Linked DNA regions of Homo sapiens: region 1 is linked to region 2. Evidence: fine-mapped expression QTL. Tissue or cell type: whole blood. Region 2 holds a variant in brackets; the other region holds the start of a gene. All regions are shown on one strand. Distances are between the middles of the regions.

What was found. PIP is the estimated chance that this variant, and not a neighbour inherited with it, causes the effect.
Region 1: KLF8 starts here. The variant in region 2 is fine-mapped to the expression of KLF8 in whole blood (TOPMed, PIP above 0.99).

What each region holds. Positions count from the first base shown.
Region 1 is chrX:56,230,884-56,233,495 of GRCh38, forward strand. KLF8 (KLF transcription factor 8) reads left to right here and starts at 1,473. Exons shown (of 6, transcript NM_007250.5): 1 at 1,473-2,458. The coding sequence starts at 2,452.
Region 2 is chrX:56,067,097-56,069,856 of GRCh38, forward strand. All of the region lies in intron 1 of LOC124900486 (a long non-coding RNA gene), which reads left to right. It also overlaps a transcript of KLF8 not described here. Among named protein-coding and RNA genes, the nearest start is that of KLF8, 160 kb to the right of the region's middle. The variant C/T (reference allele first, on the strand shown) is at 1,417.

The sequences.
Region 1 (2,612 bases), 160 kb after region 2:
GGAAGCAATGGTCAGTTTTGCCTGAAGAAATTAAGTAAGGAGGGGAGATGACCTTGAGTTAGTCCTTTCAAGAAAGTGGACAGATTCATTGGAAGGACATGCAAGAAAAAAAAAGGTGGACAGAGAGCTTAGTCTATTTCAGTCAGAGAAAGTAAAGCAACCCAAGGCATAGAGATTGGAAACAGCTTGGAATTCCCAGGGATTTGTAATCCAGGTAAAGCCCAGGAGAACAGCAAAATCTCTGCTGCTTGAGAGGCAGACAAAGGCCAGATCACAGCAGGTTAAAGGATGAGTTCCAGGGTGCTGCCTTGGATGTATGGTGGTGCCATTCAGGTAGTTGGTGAACTACAGGAGGAAGAACAGAGTGTTTTGGGGAAAGGAAGGTAGATGAGATGCACAGAAGACATTCAGGCAGAAATATCAACTAAGTAAGTAGACCTATGTGTTCGAAAGTACTGGGCTGAGGCCTTCCGTTTCCTTATTTTTTTAAATAAAGGGCACAGAGAATATAACAGTACCTAGTTCCCAGGGTTGTTATTGGGACTAAATGGGGAAATGTTGAATGTAAAAGCACCTGGCTCAGGGACTTGCCCATATTAGGTGCTGAATACATGGCAGATATTATTATTTCTCCTGTCTCTTTGCTCTTCCTCCCTCTGCTTTGTTTCTTGTCTCTCTTCTTTTTCCTCCTCTTTAAAAGAATTGTGGTAGGGAAGAGGCACTGAAAATGGGCTGTGGTTGCTTGTGACTTCCTGGCCTCCCATTAAAATGAGCTAGAGAGAGACTTTCAGGCAAGCGTAAAGAAATCCTGGAAACATGGCTCCTATCCTGTGGATTCAGCTTTACGGGGATCTTCGCCAATGCCTGGCTGAGAGGCGGTCTCAGGGGGTTGAGAACTCTATTCTTAGAGGTCTGGTATCTGGGAGACTGAGAAAGCCTTTCTTAAGTCTCCCTGCTGGGCCACGCTGTATTCACAGATCATCTTCAACTCCTTCTTCTTCCCCACCTACTCCTTCGCCCTCACCTCCTTGGCTTATCTCTTGCTAGAAAATGCACCAAGCTCCAATCTCCGTTCCTTTTAGCTTCCTCCCTGAGAAGACACTGTGACCTCGCTGTCCTTGTTCGTGTTACCATGGAGAGGTAGGAGGATAAATATCGCTTCCAGTTGTCAGCTTTTTTGTTTTCTCCTTTCCCTCTTAGACAGCCCCCAGCCCCAATCCCAGTACCCGTTTCACCACCCTCCCCTGGAGAATTAGCATAACCGGAGTAAATAGGTAATCAAGCAGTGTGCTTGCAAGCCTTAATTTTGGGACAGATAAGGAAGTGAAATTGATTGGAATTATACCTGCCGCTGCTGGAGGCTGAGGGAGGCGGCCGCCGGAGGCGAGGCCAGCTCTGTCGGCCCAGGGCCCCGCCCCACCCCCTCCTTCCTCCCTCCTCCTTCTCAGCCCCACCCTTCTCCACCTCCTCCCACTTTGCACTCTCCTCTAGCGGCCGCCTGTCCTTTTTAAGGAACTCCACCCTAGGTGGAGTCCTCACGATAGTCACACCTCTCCTTTGGGCCTAGCAGGGCCAGAGAAAGACGGAATCACTCTACCCACTCAGGTTGCCCAGAGAGCACTTTAGGTTCTGACTCGCGTGGGGCGCGAGGTACCCCGTGGGGCAGCTAGGTGCCTCCAAGAAACCCCGCCCCAGAGGACCCGCACGAGTTGCTGCCATTTTTCGCTGAAGCCCCTGCCCTGGGGCTGGTGTTCTTCTCTATGATTCTACCAATCGTCGGCATTTTTTTCCTCCCTTCTTTCTTTTTAGGAAGGCGCTGGGGTGTGCGGCGGCAACGGCGGCGGTGAAGGGATCCTCTTGTGGTATCTCCTCGTGGGTTCCTGTCTTGAAGGATTTCTTCTCCGCCTCAACTTTATGTTCAAGTAGCGCTTTGGGGGTTGGGTTGGTTTTCATAGCCCCCACCCCCGGCCCTCTCCTTTTAAAGGGTGTGTGGAGTTCAGAGGATGGGTGGAGAGCGGGCTTGGCCGGAACTGAATTGGTAGAGGTAAAAGGGGAACGGAGGACCTTAAGCTCTGGCCACTTCGGCCCAGCGAACCCACTTTATTTTTGTCCAAGGAAAAGCTGCAGGGGGGAGGATTCTTTTTAGGAAGTCTACTCTGCCGGCCCCTGATTTTTGGGTTGGATGCTTGAGAGCTTTGTTTCCCTTGTTCCGAGAGTGGCCCAGCTGGGTCTGAATCGACTCCCTCCCCTTTCGACCCCCTCCTCATTTTCCAGCCCGGAGAAATAGGGGAGTGGGGGCCCAAGAACGAGAAGACGAGAACGCGTCGCCCTGCGCTATGTCAGAATGGGGCGGGTGTGAGGGGAACAGCTCTCTTGCGATCAGCTCAGGAGTATGAGCCTCCCGGAGGACGGCATGAGTTCTGGACACTTCAGGAGTCCTCAGCTAGTGACATGGTCGGTAAGTGACTCTGGGACTAATACCCACCCACTCCCACCTCTTTCGTCTAGATTCTATCCCCCTCCCAGTCCCCCTGCTCCCCCCACACACCCCACTTGGGGTTTCAGCAGTGGGGGCGGGAGCGGAAGGTTAAGAACACTATGTGGAATCAAAT
Region 2 (2,760 bases):
ATTCTGTCTTAGGTGATCTCTTCAAGATGATACTGTCTACTCACTAATTTGGTTTTGTGTGGTAGAAGCTTTAAGGTGGCTGACTAGAGGCATCCAGTACTCACGTCTTCCATTCGTCTTTGTGGAGTACGTGAGTACCAGATGCCTCTAGTCAGCCATCTTAAAGCTTCTTCCCAAAAAAATTTTGAAATCCCCTTGAACTCTTGTAGCCAATAGGTCAGGCCTATTTTTTTACATATCAGATTTTTGTTATTTTTCATTTGAATAGTGTCTAGGAACTCAGAATGGTTTTGGAAGCTTTTAATCTGAGTAATTGGGTCATTTTTACCTGCATGAGAGGCAGTGCCTAGATGGTAGACTAGAGGCAGCTCATGTGTGCTGTTCTCAAAGAAAGGAAACAAAAGGGCTAGTGAGCACTAACTCTGCAGGTTGATCTTCTGAGAAACCAGGTCAGGATCCATCAATGCAGCAGGGGAACACAGAGAGCAGAGGATCAAAGCTGGTCAACAGCCAGCCTGGACTCAGCAGAGAGCCAGGAGAACCTCTCTAATATGAGAAAGAGTGAGTGAGAGCACCTAGGGAGATTCACACTCCAACAGGGACCTGTGCAAGACTAGGAATGGGAGAATCCCCCTTCCCCCGTCCCCCTCCTACACTTCTAAGACTGAGGCAGAAAACTGTTCAGACTTTTTCACAGGCAACTCTCGAGTCCAAGGGGACTTCTACAAGCCTTGGGCCCTAGAAAACACCAGCACTTGCACCATAGCTCCAATAGAGGCCAAAGTGGCAGTATCTGGGAGCAGTAAGATTGCTTTACTTCCCCTTGCTGGAAGAGGCTCAGCACCAGCTTCTAGCCTAGCGGTCCTACTTTGGCTTGAATTCGGCCAGCTATTTCACCCACCTTGCCAATGGTAGCCAAAGTGGAAATGCCTGATATAGCCTTCAGCCTCATGGTCTCCCTTTTGTGTGAACTCAGCTTTAGGGTGAAGCCTCCTGATGTTCTAGGAGACATTCTGACAGCAGGGCACATGACCCCATCCAGCCACACCACTGATAGCCAGAATGTCAATGCTTGCTAGAGCTTCTGGCCTAGTGGTCTTGCTTTTTTGTGAACTCAGCTGGATGGTGCCACTTCCTGTTGTCCTGGAAAATACCCGGATGGCAGAGTGTGTGACCCCACCTGCCCTGCCACTGGAAGCCAGGTGGGCAACACCTGTTAGAGCTTCTGGCCCGACAGCCCACTTCTGTTTGAGCACAGTTAGAGGGTGCAGCTTCCTGTTTTACCAAGCAACACCTGGATGGCAGAGCACATGACCCCACCCGACTCTGCCACTGGAAACCAGGTGAGCAACACTTCCTAGAGCTTCCTGCTCAGTGGCCCTGATTCTGTGTGAACTCAGCTGGAGCACACAGCTT[C/T]CTGTTGTTTTGGTGAACAACCAAATTTTGGAGTGTATGATTCCACCCACTCGCACCACTGGCAACCAGGCAAGCAATGCCTGCTATAACTTTTGCCCCAACAGCTTCGTTTCTGTGTAAACTCAGCTAGAGGTCACAGCTTCCTGTTGTCCCAGGAAACACCTGGATTGCAGAATGTGTGACCCCACCCACCCCTGCCAATGGTAGCCAGGCAAGCAATGCATGCTAGAGCTTCCAGCACAGCAGCCCCGCTTCTGCGTGAACTCAGCTGGAGGACACAGCTTCATGTTGTCCCATGAAACATCCAAATGGCAGAGTACATGACCCTGCCTGCCCCCACCACTGATAGCCATGCAGGTAATGCTTGCTAGAGCTTATAGGCCAGCAGCCCTGCTTCTTTCTAAAGTCAGGTGGAAGTCCCAGCTTTGTTATCCTGGGAAACACCTGGTCAGCCATGCACATGACACTCCACCCACCCTGACCACTATTAATGAAGCAGGTAACACCTATTAGAGTTTCTAGCCCAGCAGCCTCACTTCTGTCTGAACTATGCTGGCATGCACAGCCTCCTGTTGTCCCAGGAACCACTCAGATGGCAGGAGAGGTGACCCCACCCACCCATGCCACTGACAGCCAAGTGGGCAATGCCTATTAGAACTTCTGGCTCAGCTGTCCTGCATCTGTGGGAACTCAGCTGGAGTGTGCAGCCACCTGTTGTCCTGAGAAACACCTGGATGGCAGGGTGCATGACCCCACTGATCTAATCCCTGCCACTGAGAGCCAGGAATGCAATGCCCACTAGAGCTTCTGACCCAGTGGCCCTGCTATTGTGTGAGCTCGGTTAGAGGGTGCAGCTTCCTGTTGTCCTGAGAAACACCCACCCTGCTGTCCCCCACTACTAGTAGCCAGGTGGGATATGTGTATTAGAGCTTCTGGCCCAGTAAGCCCGCTTCTGTGGAAACTCAGCCGATGGGCACAGCCTCCTTTTGTCCCAGGAGGTACCCAGACAGTAGGGATGGCATCCCCACCCACCCCCACTGCTGGTAGCCAGGTGAGTCATGCCTGATCGAGCTTCTGGCCCAGCAGTTCTACTTCTGCCTGAATTTGCTAAGGGGTGCAGCCCCCTATTGCCCTGGAAACACCCAGATGCCAGAGCAGTCAACTCCACCCACCCCCATCTCCTGTAGCCAGATGTGCCACATCCCCTAGAGCTTCCAGCCCAGCAGTCATGCCCGGCTTCCTGCCCAGCAGTCTTGCCCGGCTTCCTGCCCAGCGGTCTTGCCCAGCTTCCTGCCCAGCGGTCCTGCCCAGCAGTCCTGCTTCAGTGTGACGATTCCTCAAGGA